Regions from separate parts of the Homo sapiens genome. Here all the other regions are linked to region 1. The links come from fine-mapping of genetic effects on gene expression. Tissue or cell type: whole blood. Region 1 holds a variant in brackets; each other region holds the start of a gene. Each region is shown on its reference strand, or each on the opposite one.

Region 1 (5,072 bases):
CTCTTGAGGAGTTGGAGGATGGGAATAAGAGGATGAAAGGAAGAGCAAGACAACCTCTCACTGTAAATAAGCCAGGAGCACAGCTGTTGGAATCCCATGGCCAAAGGAAGGCACAGAAAGCTGAAGATCTGTCCTTCCTCCACCTTTTCCAATCTTAGGGCCTTCTTCCCACATTAAATATTTGCTGATACCACATTTGATTTTCTTTACTCACTGAAGCCTATGGGCCAGGTTAGTGATGGTTTGGCACTACTTGGAAGAAGAGCTTTCATTACAGTGTCTTATTACTTTACATGCCAGTACATGTGTGCCATATATACAAGCACGTGTTGGTTATGCCCACAAGAACACTCTGTAAATGTGAAAGCATCAAGCAAGCCACCAAGAAGACTTCTACCTAAATAGGCAAAACTCAAGAGCTTCTCAACATCTCCCTGCCTTATGTTATTCTCAGTGGCAAGAGCTCATGGGGGCGGCAGGGCCTGGAAGCAGGTGGCCTGGGTTGGCACAACGTTAGCCATCTAATCTTAAACACGTCACCTTTCAAAGGGTCTGTTTCCTTACTTAGAATACGAAGGCACTCTTGGGTTTCTCCTCGCTCTTAATTTTAAAATCTCTATTCCCATATTCCTACTGATAAATCTGAATAAAATATAAACCCCTACATTGACAATTACTACAGGAACGACAGTAATGAAGTGACAAAAATATTACTGCAATCATCTTTCTTCCTCCAAAAAACTACAGATTACAGCAACATCTCCAAAATTTAGTGTTAGATTTTCTCAGCATTCCACATCAAAGGAAAAACAGTTTAAATATATATACATATGAATGTATAAATTTGGTACCTTCACTGCAAAAAAAAATATCAGTGTGCAAAAATGAGTGCAAAAGAGATCACTCCTCATGCATGGAGTGGTGATTTCCCTGAAGTTTGGAGTAGACTTGGCGATTCAGAACATCACTTATCTTTATCCAAACTCCATAATCCATAAACTGTGGACCTATTTTCACCCCTAACCAATGAAAGACAGCTGGCTCCATGTATATAAAGAAATTGTATAAAACTCTATCCAAGTTTTCAGTTCGTTAATGACAAAGATTTGACTCCAGATTTCATCACTGTAACATCCCACCATTGTTCCCCCATGACTCACTGTACCTGATTTACAGGAAGATACAGTCTGAATATGAAAGGACATTTCATCATCAGCAACAACAGAAAGTATCCATTAAGTCATAATTATATGACTTGGTGTTTCATTAGTCACCTTAAAAAAAAAAAAAGAAAAAGAAAGAAAAGAAATACGGTCCTTCCATTCTAACTGGGTACATTCTACAACTAAAAAGAATGTTTTGAACCAGCATGATAAGGACATACAGATGGCAAAATGCAACATCACAGTTGATCACAAAGGCATAGATTTCTATATAAGGGTGACCAATAAGGAGCCAGCAGGGTCAACATGCGATGACGGCAATCAACATAGAGGTCTAGAAAAGTTGAGATAAGATAAAGCATGTGTTCTTATCACTCTGGGAAGACTTCCTGGAACTGGTAGCGTTTTTTGGTAGGGAAATATACATTGGCTGGTGGGCTGGGGGCTCAGGAAAGGTTCATAAAAGCAAGTGGAATAATTATTCAAGAGGGTGCTCACCTTGTGATCTGCTTACGGAGGTCCACTCACCTGGGACCCTAGATCTGCTGCACAATATTTGAAGGAGAGGATGCCGTTAGGGGACAAAAAGTTTGACAAGGACACAGAGACAGTGGTCCTGATAAAAGAAGACAAAGTTCTGCAACTAGGCAGACAGCAAGGAAAGCAGTGCATTCAGATGCTGGAAAGGAAGACATTCTCTCAAGCAGCAGATGGCCTCTCGTGGATCTCACTTGCACCGTACACCATGGCTTTAACAAGACATTTTGCAATGGGTAGCTTAGAATCTGGTATCCAAGAACAGTGACCCATTTCAGGGTGTCTTAATATCCTGAAATTTACCACAAACTTGGTAAGTTGAAGTTTCTGTGGGATATTATTGGGAAATGCTTCACATCCCTAAGTCATTCCTTCTCAACTGTTCCTCAAAAGCTTAAAATAGCACTTAACTCCCAGAGTGATTCAACTGGCTTAAAATAATTCACAAACATCTTCCTCAAAGGAAGTAGGGAAAAGATAGGAGGTGGAATGCAAATCAGCTAACAGGTTTTGTGAACACTGAGAGGTGAATAGATTAGCGCTAACAGATCGGGTAGAGTCTGGAGGCAGCCGTGAAGCTGATTGTGTCTCGATCAGGTTATT[T/G]CAGCCAATAATTGTTTGTTGGAGTTAGAAAGCATATAAAGGTTAACAAGGCTAAGGAAGACCGGTCTCTGGGAAATAAACTACATAGCCTAAGGAGATGATAATCAAGGGAGAAAATTCCTCTTATCCTTGCTAAGCCATATCTACATGGAAATAATAGTCAATAGGCTTTCTATATCTAGATGGTAACGGTTTCTTTTCCCAAGGATTGGCACCAGATAGGTTGTTTGGGGAAAGGGGTAAGAAGGGGAAGCACGTGGATTTGCCGCTCACACCTACTATAAACGCTACAAAACAACATTCTTCTTTTATTTTGAAGCCACATTCTGTAAGCTTGTGAGTTAATTCATTAATTCACCAGAAATTTATTTTACACTCATCACACATCAGACACTATGCCAGGCCCTCAGGATATAAAAGTGAATAAATAATATAATTAATCATAATAATAGCTTCCATTATTGGGTGGCTAGCATGTGCCAGGAATTCTACCTCCGTTATGCAATGGAATGCCCACAACTAACTTCTAAATGAGGCATTATGTTCCCATTTGTCAATGGAACACTAAGATGAAGAAATGAGCGTTCTGAGAGGCTAATAAAAGTGGCAGATGGCTCAAGGAACTCCAGTGTGAGAGCGAGATAAGCACTCCATGTTTGCAATATTCTATGGGAAATGCTAAAACAGAGATTACAAAAATAATAGGAGGAGCTTCTAACTCAGCACAGGGGAGAGGAGATCGATAGGCGAGGAGAGGGGAAAGTAGGAGTGTGTATGAGAGCCAGAGAGATAAGGTATCTCTCTGAGGGTGTGTGTGTGGGGGCGGGGGAGAATGTGTGTCCGTGTGTGTATGTCTGTGTGTGCGTGGGTATACATGTTTCTTTCTGTTTGTTTTTTGTTTTTTTGTTTGTTTGTTTGTTTGTTTTTGAGACAGACTCTCGCTCTGTCGCCCAGGCTGGAGTGCAATGGCACGATCTCGGCTCACTGCAACCTCTGCCTCCTGGGTTCAAACGATTCTTCTGCCACAGCCTCCCAGGTAGCTGGGATTACAGGCGCCCACCACCACACCTGGCTAATTTTTGTAGAGACGGGGTTTCACCATGTTGGCCAAGCTGGTCTTGAACTCCTGACCTCAGGTGATCTGCCCGCCTTGACCTCCCAGAGTGCTGGGATTACAGGCGTGAGCCACCACGCCCGGCCCTGGGTATACATATTTGTGTGTGTGTGTGTGTGTGTGTGTGTGCCTGCGCGCAAGTGCACATGTGCCCTGGGGGGGGGAGAAGGTCATAGCACCCCAGAGATATACAGTCCAGGAAAGGAGATAGGGGTAATATGAACTGTCTTTCAACCAACCATACCCACAAAAAGCTTCCCTCTGCATTTCTGCAGGATGAAGCGTGTTGCAAGAGAAAACAGCAGGGCTTACGCACAGTGTTTGGGGGATGACACAAGAGGCCCTGACAAGATACTTTTTATCAGCTTGAAGAAGAGGGGGCATTTATCTTGACAGACTAATTACCCGCTTTGAGTTAGATATTGTTCCGTCTATCCGTGTACCCAATGTGGCTATAGTAATGACAGGTTTTTTAAACAAACAAACCAAAGCTTCTAGGTCCAAATAAATGCTGCAAAGTAGTCACCTTAAGTTTAATTGCTTATTTCATTGTCTCTCTCATTGCTCAAGGCATTTCAGAAACATCTCTTTTGAAATTGCCTTCATAGCTTACGGTGCATTTTTTTTTTGAATATCCTTAACGGTGATAAATTTTCACCAGTTAAAGGGTAGTATTTTTGGTTTTGTTTCAAGTCAAAAAAATCATTTTGAGCTAAGTCCATGATGACTGATTAAACTGGATAAAAATAATCAAAAACACCAATTAAATGCTAGGCACTAAACTGTTTTTCATGAATCATCTCACCTAATTTAATTCTTAACACAAATCTATAAGGTGAATATTAATGTCCCTATTTGATATATATTTAATAATTATAAAATTAGCACATGTTATTGAAGGAAGGTTGAAAAATCTTGAAGAGTAGAGACCAAAGCTGCTTCAGTGTCCCACTTACCCACATCGAATCACTACTGATATTACTGCGCTTATCTACCTAGTGTTTCTTCTATGGGTAAGCATAAGAATACATTTTCCCCAAAAATTAATAACAATGTGTATAACCTTATAATTTTTCACTTACTATTATATTGTGAACAATTTTTCATGTCACTAAATTTCTTCCACAAAAATCTTTACTCCCTATTTGGTATTCCTGTTTGTGGATATATCATAGTCTACTCACACAATTCCAATATTTCAATGCTGCAAAGGAACATTCTTCATAGATAAAACTTTGTGGATTTTTATGATCGTTCCCATCAGATAATTTCCTAGAAGTAGAACCACTAGATCCAGGACATGAATCTTTTTGTTAAAAGTTTCCCATTTCTTGGATGAGTAAATCAAAACTCATTAAGCACTTTCCAAGATCATAAAAGTACAATCTAGCGGAAGTTAGATTTGATGCAGGTCTTTGACTCTCTAAAGCCTGTGGGGTTTTTTTTTTCCCCCAATATGATAAATTAATTTTGATGGAAAATGAGAAATATCAATAAAATAAAGAATTTTCACACGTGCAACCAAAACTATTCATGAAAGGCTGTTTTTAAAGGAGTTAAAAAATGCTTTGGATTTGCATTGTTTCCCTAGGTGACTCTTCCAGGAATCAAGCTCGTTTCTGAGTTTGTGTTTTGTTATATTTCTTCCTAAAGCA
Region 2 (4,918 bases), not on the chromosome of region 1:
TGGGGAGATGACCCTCCACCCGTGTGAAGACCTCCAGGGAGGAGGGACCAGCCTCAAAGCCAAGTGTCCACCCATGCTCCCTCTTTTCTGGAACAACTTGTTTTGCTCTAAAGCTTGGGACTTTGACCCAGGAGGTATGTTTTCCTCCTGTTGATCACCTGGTGTCCTTCCTGTTCATCCCCTTCCCCCACCACTCCCAAAGCATAGCCCAGGGGATCCTTTCCTTTCCCTGGGTTTTTCAGGGAAGTGGAGGATACTGGGGTGGGGAAGGCAGAACCTGGGACTTGAGTGCTGAGGGCACTGGTTGGAGGGGGTGGCACAGCTGTGACCCCCCCACCCTCCTTAAGTCTGTCCTTGCTTGGCTCCTGGGATACCCCACTTTCCTGGGGTTGCTTCCTCCTGTTTCCTCCTGCCCCTTCTTCCTTTGAAAGACCTTTGTGTGTTGGGGGCGTGTCTCCTTCTTTCTGTGCTCTCCCCTCAACACCCCTACCCCCGCTACACACACTGGGGAGACCATGAGCTCCCAGGCCTCAGTTACCATCCCTGTGCTGCAGACGGCTCCCAGATGTTCCACTCCAGATGCAGGGATTTTGCAGCCTTCCAGATGTCTCCCTCTGGAAAGTCCACAGGCACTGCAAGCATAATACCTCAAAATCTATAGCTCATTAATCCTCCAACCCCCCAAACTTGCTCTGGCCCCTACTGAGGCACTAGCATCTACCCAGCTGCCTACGCCAGAAACCTGGGAGTCACCTGAAGCCCTGCCTCCTGCCTGTACCCATTCTCCCAGCTTGGCACTGTGTTCCAGCAGCCACACCCCGGCTTCTCTACCTCCTCAACAGGGCTCAGATCTGTTCCCATGGGCACTTCCTGCCCAGGTCCAGGCACTGGTGTTGTGGCCACTGTAGCAGATCCCTGGATTTCTCTTCTCCAGCCTTTGCATGCCCCTTTCACTCTCCACACTGCATGGAGAGGTGTTTTCCCAAACGCAAAACTAACCATGTGACTCTCCTCCCTAAAATTCTTGGAGAAGGCACCAGTAGATGTTTGTTAAATTCAGCCCCATTCCTTACATTCCAATCAGTGATTCTCTGGCTGTTCATTAACATGCACAGTGCTTACTCCAGTCTGTGTTAGAAGATTCTGAGGACACCAAGTTGGGTGTGGGAGGGAGGCCAGGATATACATGTTTGGGAGGCATCACTCAACTCCAAGCAAAGTTCTCCCAGATCACCTTGAGACACTCCATCTTTGGATGGCAATGGGCCCGACTGCACACGCATGTGAACACACACACACACACCCACACACACCACACACACACACACACACACACACACACACACACACACACACACACACAGGAAGCAGGCCTGAGGCATGATGTCTGAGTGCTCCCGCTGGAGCAGGAAGGCAGAATCAACCTGCCATAGGAAGGGTTGCCCAGGAGGCCTGATGAATAGGAGTTTGGTGGCTTCAGGGAAGAGAGGCTGTGGAGGTGCCTTCAGCTCAGGTGCTGGCTCCTGGGGACCTTCCATCTCTGATGAGACTTTGTTCCAGTTGGCCCGCTCCTTTCTAGGGAGTCAGCATCTCAGCTTCCCATACTTCTGGGGTGGGGGGTGGGGCAAGGAGACCAGCATGACCCTTGGTCAGGGGCTTGCACAGGAACTCTGGCCATTCTCATTCCCTGAGCTGGAGGGCCAGGTGGACACCACGTGATCCTGGGGAGGCTTTTGCCTCTTCCGAGGGCTCTGGCTCCAGGGCCTCCCTGTTCCAGGGGCTAGGTGTGCCTTCCTCAATGCTGCTTTTGGCTATGAGGGTGACGGGCCCAGGGCTTCAGGGCCCCAGATCGCACCTTGCCATCTGGGGTGTCCGTCCTTTGTCCCCCACAGCAGGCTGTGTTTGCCCATTTTCTCCTCTGCCATGGGTGGAGATGGATCTGAAGTTGGGTGTTGAAGCCTCTGACCAAGGCTGTATCTTGTTTTGAGGCCCTGCCCGGTTTCCAGGGACCACATCTGGGGCCAAGAGGAAGAACCGAACTGGGACTAGGTTAGCTGTGCTGGGTCAGGGCCTGGGCATGGGCTGTGAAAGCTGGGGACTGGGACCTTCAGGCCCTCTATTGAGATCTTTGCAGAAGGGGGTGGATTTAGGAAGCTACTGGGCTGGGCCAGGGCGTGGAAGGCACTGAAGCCGTAGTGTGTCCCAGCATTAGAGTCCCAGAGTTTAGCTTGGCGGGGCAGGGGCAGGTGGTGGGGAGAACAGGAAATAGGCCAGGCTCTCGGCGGAGTCTGGCAGCTTTGAGCCTTCTCTGGGCTTCTGGGGTTTTCCCCAGGCTCCTGAGCCAGCCAGGACATTTCTTAATCCCACTGTCAGCCTTCCAAGAAGCCCCGCCCACTGGGCTCAGTCAAGGCAGGAGCGACTGTGTGTCACCCCTTTCCCTAGAATCCAGCCCCACTGCCAGGAAAAGGGAGCTCAGGGCATGGAGGTGAGGCTGGGACTCTCCCACATCTGCTTGTTCCTCATACCCACCTCCTTAGCTGGCCCCTGGAAGATGACCTCGAATGCCAGCCCAAGTGAGCTGGGCACCAGCCAGGGGAGGCCAGGTCTGGCAGCTCATTACCATGGGAGGGAGGGCACGTTCTCTCCGACGCCCGTCTTCGTGTCTCCTCCCTCCCTCGCCTTCCTCCTTCCTAGCTCCTCTCCTCCAGGGCCAGACTGAGCCCAGGTTGATTTCAGGCGGACACCAATAGACTCCACAGCAGCTCCAGGAGCCCAGACACCGGCGGCCAGAAGCAAGGCTAGGAGCTGCTGCAGCCATGTCGGCCCTCAGCCTCCTCATTCTGGGCCTGCTCACGGCAGTGCCACCTGCCAGCTGTCAGCAAGGTAGCTCAGGAGGAGAGGGCTGGGCACGGGAGACCCAGGGGTGGACAGGTGGTGTTCTGGCTCCCCTCCCCAGGGCCTTGATACTTACAGTTTGGAGGGGGAGCAGGGACTGCGCTAGCTGAAAGAATGTCCCAAGGCAGAGACCTCTGAACCAAGTCTCTGCCTGTCACTTGTTTTCAACGAGTGAAAACTGGCAGCAGTTGGTTCTAGGATCTCAGGGAGGAACAGGATTTGAGGCCCAAGCCCCAAGAGCAGGCATTGCCCAAGGGATGGCTGGGTCCTGAGTACAGGGGACCCGGGGGTACAAGTAGGGTGAGAGTGGGGCCCAAGCCACCCCTCAAAGACTTGGGCTTTGTCTCGGCCTCTTGGGCTTGGATAGAGAACAGTGCCCAGTGTGACTCCCCCAAATATCTGACCTCTTCGTCCTGCTCTGCCTGAATGGATGTGTGACCTTGAGCAAATCACTGCCCCTTCCTGAGACTCAGTTTTCTCACCTATAAAATGAGAACAATAAACCCCACCCTGCCCACCTCCCAGGGCTGCTGCCAGGTCAGAGGTGAAGAAGGGCTTTGCACCTGGTGAAGTAACTAACCCAAGGTCTGGCTTTCATTCTACACTGTCAGGCTGCATCTGCAGCCAAAGTCTGGGGACTCTGCAGGTGGGACTTGGTCCAGAGGGGACTGGCAAAGATGCTTTCAGAGCTCCCCTCCCACCCCCACCCCGAGCTCTTATGTGTGTCTGCTTCAACTCTGTCTCCCAGGTCTTGGAAGCCCTCTGGGGAACTGCAGACCAGAGAGGTTGAGTCACAGAGCACGGCAAGAAAGGACAGGGTTCAGACCACCTTTCTCCTGCCCCAGACACTGCCCCTTGCTGTATGTGCATGGGAGGAGGAGCAGGGACTGTGGTCCCTGGGGTGACTGGAGAGAATTGGCTGCAGGGTCTAGGAGGAAACAGGGAGGGGCCTCCAAGGGTTGAGCCCTAACTCCCCATGCTTGAGCAACCACTGACCTGAGGGAGCAGTCTGAACCCCTAGGGAAACAATGACTCCCAAATACTGCTTTTTGGCAGGTGTGGAACTGAGGGTAATCACACTGTGTGTCTTCTGCTTCCCCTGGAGATAAGTGAGGTCTGACCTCACTACAGGCCAGAGAGTTCCTAGCCTCCTTCCTCCTTCCCAATATTTGCCAGGCTCGGAGAAGAGGTCAGGCCTCCACTGCAGCAGGAGAGCTTTTGGTAGACTCAAAGGAGGACATTTGAGCAGGAGTGAGCCAGAGGAAGGTTTTCTCATGTCCAGCTTGGGTCCCTCAAAATATAGGGATGCAGGTATATTCTGGCCTGGAGGCAGGACCCCTCTGAAGCCCCCTGCTGACCTGTGTTTTGTCCTGGGACTTCTCCCCGCTGAGGGTCTTTTCTCTACAAGGCTGAGCTCCTGCAGGCTCATGGAGTGCAGTGATGCTGGGGAAGAGGAAAGTCCTTTGGGGAAGCAGAGGCCTGAAGGCAGGGACTTCAGGAAAATCTTGAGGGACTGTGTTGGTGTCAAGGGTCAAAAAGCAGAGAAGGGACCTGGTGCAGTAGCTCATGCCTGTAATCCCAGCACTTTGGGAGGCCAAGGCCAGAGGCTCGCCTGAGCCCAGGAGTTTGAGACCAGCCTGGGCAACGTAGTAAGACCCTGTCTCTATTAAAAAATAAAAAAAGTAGAGAAGGGTGCAGGTTGGGGCCTCAACCTAATCTCTGGCCCTAGTCCCTGGGCACCCAGCTGGGGGAATCAAAAGGAGCTCAGGTTTTGAGGCTTCTTTCCTGGTCCCCAAGACCCAGAGTAGAGTTCACCCCTCCATTCTGCCCTTCTAAAGATGTCCTGGTCCACTCCTCTCTCTGGGTACCCCAGGCACCCCAGATCTCCCCAGCTGAGCAGCCCTGAGAGTCTCCCACTCTCATACCCTTCCTACCATCAGAGAAACGTCTTGCTACAGAACAGGATCTTCTAGATCCCAGACCAGTCTTGTCAGCTGTGGGTCCTCCTCAGCCTTCTGGGAGC
Region 3 (5,072 bases), not on the chromosome of region 1:
CTCATCTGGAAAATGGCTGTCATCACAACACCTACCGCACAGGGTTGTTGCACAGATCAAATGAGACCATCCACGTAAACTGCCTACCAGTGCCTGACACATAGAAAGTGTTCAATAAATGTTAGCTAATGATTACTACATTATTATTCACCAGGGCTTAGCCTAAATGTCACCTTCTCGGAGAGGCCTTCTACAACCACCAGAACTAAAGCAAGTGCACATTATTCCCTAGCACTCCACCTGCCCTGTTTCTTCCCTCGGAATACTCTTCACAAGCTGTAACTGTGTCTGTGTGTGTGCCTGGTAGGTGTTGGTCTTCCCTGCCCCTCTGGGCAAAGACAGTGCCTGCTTGTCCTCCAGTTTCCCCAGCACCCAGCGAGTGCCGGACACTGTCACCATTCACTGAATTACTTTTCGAATGAATCAATAAAAAGGCAGACCTGGATTCATATTCCAGCTCTGCGTGGCCTTGAGCAAGTTACTTCACCTCTCTCAGCCTCAGTTTCCTTGCCTGTAAAATAGGGGTGATAGAACCTGCCTCATAGGACGGCTGTGAGAACTCATGGAGATGACACCCACCAATGCCTGGCACGCAGGAGGCTCAGCTCACATGAGTTACCTGCCCTGCTTCCTTCCCCTTTCAGGTCTCATGCCAGCCACTCCTACCAGACTCTGGGGAGCAGACACTGAGCTGTCCCTGTGGGAGGGGGGAGCTTAAATGTCAGGCTGGAAAAAGGCACAGAGGAAACTAGGTGGCAGAGACATTGCTTTAAGAAAATGTGAGCTGGGGCATGAAGTAGGGGGTGATGTGCTGGGTCCTGCCTGACCCCGGCCCTTACTGTCAGACAGCACTTCATATGCCTCGGCCACCTCCTTAAATTTCTTCTCAGCAAACTCTTTATTATCTGGGTTTTTGTCTGGGTGCCACTGGAGAGCCTTGCGCCGATACCTGCAGAAAGTGGGTGCAGAGGAGAGAGTCGGGGGACAAATGCAGGCACTTCCCACCCAGGAACCGAACGACCTGTTTTCCCATTAGCCTATCACTGTCCTTTCACCCCCGGGTCCCAGTCCACCCCAGCTGCTAGGGCTGCCGCTGCTGTGATATTTTCATCAAGTTCCACCCTCTCTCCTCCGCCACCAGTGCTGGGACCACATGTACAAGCGGATACAATGCCAGGGTCCCTAGCCCCTCCCTAGGGCTCACTGGACTGGGGCTGCAAAGGTTGGGGCACATGTGGCCTCGAAGAGTACAGGGACACCGGCCCCTCCTCCTCATAGAGCCTCTTTGCACTGCATCTTTGCACTGCAGCCTGAGAATGCCCAAATCTAGGGGGAAGGGGGAGGGGAGGGGAAAGGAGGAGGAGGAGGAGGAGGAGGGGAAGATCAACTGGAGAACAACCCATAACACAGTGCAGCTCCCAGAGGAACTAACTACTTCACTCTCTGGACGTTCTCCTTGTACTCTACCAGGGGTCTCTTTCCTCCCTGCAGGTGTCACTCGGAAGAAGCACCCCAGTGCTTTCTAACGACCTGGTTCCCTCAGACACCTACAGGTGTCACTCTGAAGTGCCCCATGGTGGTGGCGGGTGGAGGGTGAGAGGTCTTCTGTTGCATACGGAGGCACTTACGCCTTCTTGATGTCATCAGCGGACGCACTTCGCGGCACGTCTAGGATCTCGTAGTAGGATGCCATGGCAACTGGTCAGTCGTCAGGCGGGCCTCCTTGGGGCTGCAGAAGAGAAGGAGTCAGGCGGAAAGAACCAAGAGCCCCACCCTGTGGCTGCAGCAGTCCCCCTCCCCGGGTGGCGGAAGGCGCTCCCAGTTGGAAGCGGAGCACACCGGGCTCTGCTTGCGGCCGGTGACTAGGCTCCCTCCGGCAGCCTTATCTGCCCCCGCAGGCCGGGGCCAAGAGCTATCTCGACGCCCAGGCCCAGGAGCCCTATCGGGGCCCCCCAACTCCAGCAGTCCGATCCAGGGCCCCCAGCCTGACCCGGGCCCCCGGCCGCACCTCCTCCGCCAGGAGTCCCGGCCTCCTGCGGCGCCCCGCCCCTGCCCCCCGCCGGGAACCGTCTGGCACCCGCAGCCCGGCTCGCGGCTGCTGCGTAGGACGCGCCCGGCCCAGCTGTGCGCGCAGGCATGCGTCAGCGGTGCGGAAACTACTAGAGACGGGGAGAAGGCCGGCTCCGCCTGTCCCCTGGGGGGGTGGGGGCCTGCAGGGGCTGCCGGGAGAAGAGGGCGGAGCCGGCTATTTTGGGCACACACCAGGACGACGTCAGCCCCAGCTGGGACCTGGGAGACTGCGGCCCCGCCTCCATCCAAGCGAGAAGCGCTCGCACGGAGGCTGGGGCAGCCCACAAACAAGCCGCTCGGCCCCCAGGTTCCTCTGTCACTTTCTTATAAACATGAGCGATGATCCATGCTTACTCACCCACCTCGAGGACTCAGACTCTTCCCTCCCTCCCCCCACCACGGTTCTAACTCCTCCCCCTTCTTCAGCTCCCAGCTCCAGCCCCAGGTCCCCCAGCAGGCTGCCCTGGCTTTCCTGAGTAGGTCAGAACTGCCTTTTACAGCATCTCGTGGCATTTCCTTCATCAGGCTTGTTAGAGCCACAAATTAGCATTTATTGGTTTGATTATTTTTTATTACCATTCACCTCCCCCACTAGAATGTCGATTTCACAGGACAGGAATTGTGTGTTTTTTCTCACTGGTCTATTAGAGCAGTCGTAGGGGTTCAAAACTACCCGTGGGATGAATAAATAATGAACACCTGCAAACCTCTTGTTGACAGTTTTGACACATTTGGGGGAGGTGAGGTAAAGGGGGCCGTACAACGGAATTCCCCAGGTTCAAGTCTTCCCAAACTGATCCTGAGTAGGCCTATTCCACTTCAAAATGCTCCCTGGGTTCAGGCCTCATTGGAGAGTTAGGAAACCTTCCAGAACTGGCTCCTGCTTGATCCCATCCAGGCCAATCCAAAGGCGTTAGCTGAGCATTTTTCTGCATTCAAGATGCTGCCAGGCCGTATAAAGAAGAATGTGGCCCAAGCCCTGCCTTTGCAGAGCTTGAACTTGATAAGATACCAGCCCATCAGTGTAGCCCGCTGGGAAACCCGAGGCTTTGGAAACAGAGTACAACCTGGCATTACTGTGAGACTTGGGAAAATCTCTGAGCACTCTTTTTTTCTCACTAAATATAGGTAGTGCCTAGGGTTGTTTGAAAGTCAAATGAGACATGGTACGAATTAGGTGTTACTGCGGTCCTGCTGGCATCGTGATTGGCTCAAGCAATAATGGTTATGTGAGTCCAGAAAAGTGCTTTAGGCTGGGGGACCCAGGAATACTTCGCCAACGAGAAGGGTTTGAGGCGGACGTGAGAGAAGAAGGTGGTGTGAGTGTCCTGGTTTCCTGGCTGCCCACCATCAGAACCTCCTGCCTACATTTGGGGAATTCCCATCGCAAGGGCCCTAATGGAAAGCAGGCCACCATTTGCCACAAAGCCCCAATGCTTGCTCTCCCTGACTCGGCTCTGGGGTTGCAGGCAGAAGACATGAGCTCCGCCAATCGGATGCTCCAACTGGGACTTTGAATCTGGAGCAAGTCACGGAATAGCAAGGCTGGTTTAGGAATTCATTTCTGCGGCGGCGGTGGAGGCGATGGGGCCAACAGCGGCCTCTAGTGTCTGGAGGAGGAAGTGTCAGCGCTACTGCCGCAGGTGAGGGACGAGAGTAGGAGGATCACTGCGGAGGGTGGAGGGGACAGGAGTCTCCTACACAGGCTGTCCTGTGCCCAACCTTGACTGTGGTACTGGCTGCCCAGCTTCCCTAGGTGCCTGTCTGATTGCTGACCCTTGTTTGCTGGCCCTTGCATTGATTCTGTGTGCTATCCGATATCTCTATAATTGTTGGGGGCAGGGGACTTGAAACAATTTGCCAGTTAGCTTCTGCTGTTTATAAGAGTCCTGACTGACACAAAGACTAAGGGTTAGACTTGGTATAAGAGGAAGGAGTGGTTGGGTTAAGTCACTCCAAATTTTCCAGATCTCTGCCTTTTTCTTCTTACTCTGCTGTGCCAACAGACATTTGTCTAGCACCTACCGTGTATGTCTTGTTATATTAAGAAAAAGAATATAAAAAAGTTTAAATTCCAATCTCTGTGCTCAAGGGGATAGGACATAGACAAATGACAACTGAGGGAAATTATATGGAGCACATCTAGCAGACAAAGGTTTAATTTCCTTTGTCCACAAAGAAATGCCAACTAATGAAAGACAATGACATTTTTAAATGGACAAAGGGACAGGCAGCTCACAGAAGAGGAAATACTGGCTTTTAAACAAATGAAAAGATGCTCAATCTCATTCACAAAAAAACTGTAAACTAAAGCTACGACAGGCCAGGCATGGTGGCTCATGCCTGTAATCCCAGCACTTTGGGAGGCCAAGGCGGGTAGATCACCTGAGGTCAGGAGTTTCAGATCAGCCTGGCCAATATGGTGAAACCCTGTCTCTACCAAAAATACAAAAAGTAGCCAGGCGTGGTGGCACATGCCTGTAATCCCAGCTACTCGGCAGGCTGAGACGGGAAAATCACTTGAACCCGGGAGGCGGAGGTTGCAGTGAGCCAAGATCGTGCCATTGCACTCCAGCCTGGGCAACAAGAGTGAAACTCCATCTCAAATAATAATAATTTTTAAAAGAATAATAATAATAAAGCTACAACAAAATACTTTGGGGTTTTGTTTTTTGAGATGGAGTCTTGCTCTGTCATCCAGGCTCCAGTGCAGTGGCACTATCTTGGCTCACTGCAACCTCCCAGGTTCAAGCAATTCCCCTGCCTCAGCCTCCCAAGTAGCTGGGATTACAGGCATGTGCCACCACCCCTGGCTAATTTTTGTATTTTTTGTAGAGATGGGGTTTCACCATGTTGGCCAGACTGGTCTCAAACTCCTGGCCTCAGATGATCCTCCTGCCTCAGCCTCCCAAAGTGCTGGGACTATAGGCCAGAGCCACTGCACCCGGGCACATGGCCCTAACAAAATACTTTGTTTCACTTATTGGATGATTGACAAAGAC
Region 4 (5,072 bases), not on the chromosome of region 1:
CCAGACTAAGTGGCGTGGGTTCCGGGAGGAGCAGCGATGGGCCGCAGGGGACGCCGCGGGCCGGGCAAACAAGCTGGCCAGAGGTGGACACTGCGCACGGCAGGGATGGAGACTCAGGCGCGACTCCCAGCACCTCCTGGCGGCAAGCCGGGCAGCGAGGGCTCCCAAAACAATGCAGCCGGCGCGCGGAGCGCGGGGGCCGCCAGCCACTTCCGGGCGTGCGGCAGCGCGGGGCTCAAACCAGCCAGACCAGCTTCGGGCTCCTTGAACTCCCAACAAGGGGCTCTGCGGGGAGGAGGCGACCCCAGCGGAGGGCGTTGGGGATTTAGGGGTTGGCCGGGGCCGGCGGGGGGTTGGGGGGGCGTGAAAGCGAGAGGGCCCTTATCCCACTCCCAGGCCCAAGTCGTAGCATCTCTCAGAGCTCACGCTCTTTATTAGCTCTTTCTTTTGGTGTGCTTCTGTTTCCTTTGTGGTTTCATTGCAAAGTAGTTTATGTTGGGAAGGGGGCTTTTAGGCCTCTTGGTGCTTTCGTTAGAGACGAAAAGGCCCTGAACCAATTTGGGGAAAGAGAGGCCTTTTGCAGCTACCCCGGGCCCTTCCCCAGCAGAGCACCCGGAAGCTGGGCTCTTAGGGACGCAGATTCTTGGAGTTCAGAATGTGCATTCTCTCCAGATGACGATTTTCCTGGCGTGTTTACGGTCAGCAGATAACACTGAGTGGGCTTTTGCCACCCATTCATTCATTACCCGGCTCCTCTAAGCAGCTGGACCGCAAAGTGTGCCTGATAACTTGGGCCTGGGAGCCGCCAAGGCCAACGCATCTTCCGGAAGGAGGGAAATTAGGAAGCCGGGGTCTGAGCCTGTGAATGACTCTTAAGTGGTCGGGAAGTAATAACAATGCGCCCACCTTACATATGAAAGAACTTCGCCCTCCGGGGATTATCTCTTTGGATCTTCACAGCCACCCGGAGACAGCGGCTGAGGAGAGCGAAGGCCTCCTGTCCCCATAGGGAGACTAGGGACAATTAGGCAAAAGGAGCCCACCCCCCAACCCAGAACTTACTGTTTGCAGTCAGAGACACTAGATCCCAGGCTCCACGAGAGCAGAGGCCGGCCTGTTTGTTCATTTCTGCACATCCAGCGCCCAGCATGGTGCCCCCTGGTACGTAGGGGATGAATGAGCTAATTCTAGCCCTCGTGGATCTCTAGGCAGGACTCCTTCCTCTACCTCGCTCCCTCCCAGCCTGCCCATCTTTTGTGCCCGTCTTTTGTGCCGGCCACCAGTCTTTACAAACAGTGCCCTGGGGGCCCATACTCCAGCTTTCCAGAGCGCACAGCTGCAAGGGCGGCTGTGTGTTAGAGCCCGTGATGCCTTCGAGTATTGAGTCATGCCATTCATTTAAGAAGGAAAAATCTCTCCAAAACGGGGAAATGGTGGGCAGTCCTGTGTGACTGGTGAGACTCTTGTAGGGGCGTTTCTACAACGACGAAACCCTTCCTAGGCACTCACTCCAACAGAATAACAAGCCCATTTTATTAGTATTTCGTTTTCCATGTAAAGTTCTGCTCATACGAATATATTTATAATTCTGATTTTTTTACGGCATTGGGGAGCACACCGACAGGCTGCTGAACGGTGGCTGGAGATTCGAGGGAAAACGAAGTTCGCCGAGGCGGCCTCGGGCGGGCAGGTCCCGGGCTCCATCACAGGGCACACGCGGCTACCAGGGACGCAGCCCCCCAACACACACACACACACACACACACACACACACACACACACACACACCCTCTCCCACTCATGCCTGGCAACCCAGCAGAAACTTCGGACTGGGGCAAAACAAGCCCGGGCCCCGGCGGCACGCGGGGCTAGGCGCGTTCCCGCCAGTACCTGGTCGCGAGGCCGCTCGCGGGGTGCCCTGCGTGCCCCCCACTCCCGCAGCCCGCGCCCTGCTCGCTCACTGTGGGGGCGCAGCGGCCAGGCTTCTCTGTTTGTTGTTTAAAGAAATCCTAGGGCGGGCGAGCGGCGGCATCTAGGGGAGGGGGCGCAGCCAGAATTCCCTTCCAGCAAGCGCGTGAGGGGCATTCTCAACGCAAAACCAGACCCAGAAAGTAGTGACCAGCCCTCCTCGGATTACCCTTCATTGGCTCCTCCCTTGCTCCCCCCACCCTCCAGATTTGCATAAAAAAGGCCAAGAAAACTCTGGCTGTGCCCCAGCAACGGCTCATTCTGCTCCCCCGGGTCGGAGCCCCCCGGAGCTGCGCGCGGGCTTGCAGCGCCTCGCCCGCGCTGTCCTCCCGGTGTCCCGCTTCTCCGCGCCCCAGCCGCCGGCTGCCAGCTTTTCGGGGCCCCGAGTCGCACCCAGCGAAGAGAGCGGGCCCGGGACAAGCTCGAACTCCGGCCGCCTCGCCCTTCCCCGGCTCCGCTCCCTCTGCCCCCTCGGGGTCGCGCGCCCACGATGCTGCAGGGCCCTGGCTCGCTGCTGCTGCTCTTCCTCGCCTCGCACTGCTGCCTGGGCTCGGCGCGCGGGCTCTTCCTCTTTGGCCAGCCCGACTTCTCCTACAAGCGCAGCAATTGCAAGCCCATCCCTGCCAACCTGCAGCTGTGCCACGGCATCGAATACCAGAACATGCGGCTGCCCAACCTGCTGGGCCACGAGACCATGAAGGAGGTGCTGGAGCAGGCCGGCGCTTGGATCCCGCTGGTCATGAAGCAGTGCCACCCGGACACCAAGAAGTTCCTGTGCTCGCTCTTCGCCCCCGTCTGCCTCGATGACCTAGACGAGACCATCCAGCCATGCCACTCGCTCTGCGTGCAGGTGAAGGACCGCTGCGCCCCGGTCATGTCCGCCTTCGGCTTCCCCTGGCCCGACATGCTTGAGTGCGACCGTTTCCCCCAGGACAACGACCTTTGCATCCCCCTCGCTAGCAGCGACCACCTCCTGCCAGCCACCGAGGAAGGTAAGCCTTCCCTCTTGCTTCCCCACTCCCTGCTGGGCTGAGACGCTCCCAGGAGATCCCGCCCCTGCCACGCATCCCAGTGCATCCCTGCTTGGGGTGCCAGTAGCGGGAAGGGCAGAAGTTCTGCCTGACCTGGTCTGTCATCACAACAAGCCTGTATCAAATTTGAGGCACCCCTCCCACGCCGCCCAAGTCTCGCGCATTCTCCTCCCGAGTTGTACCAGCTATACTTAAGGGCAGTTTAAAAATAAAACAAACAAACAAAAACAACAAAACTAAAAAAACGAAGAACTGAACGGCGGTTTAAAAAAAAATAGATACACGATTATTGTTAAAGATGCTAGCACTGGAGCTGCGCAGAGCGTTGGAAGTGGTGTTTGGTGGAGGAGTTTGTGGTGAGCATTCTGGCCAGAGGCCCCTCGCTCAGCCTCATTCTGCACCTTCCTACCACTGGGCAGGATTCTAGTCACAGGAACATTTCCTGTACAGAAAGGAAAACCAGGATGCACAAGTAGATAACCTTTTAAGGGTCTTTTTGTCCTTTGTCAATTTAGATTTTGGAAATAAAACCGGGACTGGCACGGAGTGTGTGGAAAATTGAACATTGGTTGTAACTGCTCAGATACTTGAGGAAGAGGGCATAAAGGGAATCTCTGGAAATCACTTTTCTATTGCTATCAGTTTTTAACTTAGGAGTGGTTTTGATTAGCTGGAGAAAATCATGCAAAAGAGATTCCCAAGTTTTTAGAAAACGGAGGGAGAGTTCCTGTGCAAAAACCATCAAAGCAATGAAAACCTCATGGGCTCTCAATATTTTTTCTGAAAGGAAAACATATACAATGCCTCTGAGCTGATTTGGGTCCCCTGGGTTGGAAAAGGGAGCTTCCTAATCCCTTTCAGGGCTTCAGCAGCCTCTCCCTTTCAATCTCTAGTAGTTTTCCTACAGACATCATTAGTTAAAGCAAATGCAAAGTTCTTTAGCAATCTTTCCTGGCAGGGACCATGAGTTTGCAATCATCTTATTGGTTAGATTTCTAATTTATTGCAAATGTTTGGCATTTTTCAAACATTTGTCCAACATGTACCATAGACCAACCAATACAGGTTAGTAATATTTTATATACATCCTGAGAGCTCCTAATTGGAAATGTTTGATTTTGTTTGGGTGAGGGGACTTAAGGGCAGTTTTATGTATGTTGCTTTTATTTCTTCCCACTATCAGCAGCAACATTACGCATCTTACATTTCTCCAAAAAGCCACTTTTCTCCTTCAAAATAAAAGTTTATGTTCTTCAAAATTCCAGCTTTGTGATTTTTCTAATTTGATAAATAACGCTTCTATTAAGTCACATAGTTTTCTATGAACATTAAATTTCACATTAGTGAAAATCTCATTTCACCTAAATTTTAAAGACATAATTAACACATTTATAAATGAGAGAAGGGCAATATAATTGTTCTTTTTTTTTTTTTTTTACTTCTCCCAAGAAATCAAACTCTTAGAAGAGCTTTTAGCAGGTCTTCTGATAATTGTGCTAGTATACAATCCCTAAGTTTGATCAGACCACTAAACCATTTTTGCTTCGTCTTTGATTAGCTTCAGAAACAGGTTTATTTATTTGTTTGTTTTGAGAGTTTGAAACAGGCACAGAAGGGCAAGAAGAACCTGTACCAGGGAGCTTGCAGATAACAATGAAATGAATGCTGCCTAACTCAAGCACAATCTTGGCAGAGGCACAAGGTGACACAGAACCACTTAGAGCAGGCTGTTGTAATTAGTGAGATGTGTTTTCAAGGTGGAAACAGCCCACATGTGGAACGCTAGCCAGTCACCCCTCCCAGTCCAGACTTGGCCCCCCTGAGATACAGAGCTCTGCCGAGTAGAGCCAACTACACTGGTGTCCTGTGGCTGAGAAAGACAATCTTTTGTCTATATTTTCTAGTTACCAGTTTTCCCAAATTCCTCAAGTATCTTTGGTTCTTTGGGTGCTTTCTCCTTCAAAAGGCCTTGGGAATAACTTTTTCAGACTGAATTTCCCAGAGGTTGGGAGGATGAGCTGAAAAGCTGCACCCTGTCTCAGTTAACTATAACTACATACACTTGTATACTCT

The links. PIP is the estimated chance that this variant, and not a neighbour inherited with it, causes the effect. A credible set is the group of variants that fine-mapping cannot tell apart.
Region 2: it holds the start of PDZK1IP1, and the variant in region 1 is fine-mapped to the expression of PDZK1IP1 in whole blood (TOPMed, PIP 0.95).
Region 3: DNAJB2 starts here. The variant in region 1 is the best candidate, but not a certain one, in a credible set for the expression of DNAJB2 in whole blood (TOPMed, PIP 0.60).
Region 4: it holds the start of SFRP2, and the variant in region 1 is fine-mapped to the expression of SFRP2 in whole blood (TOPMed, PIP above 0.99).

What each region holds. Positions count from the first base shown.
Region 1 is chr6:139,516,788-139,521,859 of GRCh38, reverse strand. No RefSeq gene overlaps it. Among named protein-coding and RNA genes, the nearest start is that of LINC01625, 45 kb to the right of the region's middle. RefSeq lists a cis regulatory region at 2,766-3,242. The variant T/G (reference allele first, on the strand shown) is at 2,304.
Region 2 is chr1:47,187,831-47,192,748 of GRCh38, reverse strand. PDZK1IP1 (PDZK1 interacting protein 1) reads left to right here and starts at 2,713. Exons shown (of 4, transcript NM_005764.4): 1 at 2,713-2,883. The coding sequence starts at 2,817. RefSeq lists an enhancer at 359-1,308 and a silencer at 2,138-2,432.
Region 3 is chr2:219,276,455-219,281,526 of GRCh38, reverse strand. It overlaps DNAJB2 (DnaJ heat shock protein family (Hsp40) member B2), which reads right to left and starts at 2,161. Exons shown (of 9, transcript NM_006736.6): 1 at 2,009-2,161; 2 at 1,629-1,729; 3 at 840-949. The coding sequence starts at 1,693. RefSeq lists silencers at 1,837-2,316, 3,558-3,760 and an enhancer at 3,337-4,041.
Region 4 is chr4:153,786,222-153,791,293 of GRCh38, reverse strand. It overlaps SFRP2 (secreted frizzled related protein 2), which reads left to right and starts at 2,211. Exons shown (of 3, transcript NM_003013.3): 1 at 2,211-2,960. The coding sequence starts at 2,459. RefSeq lists enhancers at 149-318, 580-1,281, 1,282-1,983, 1,898-2,067.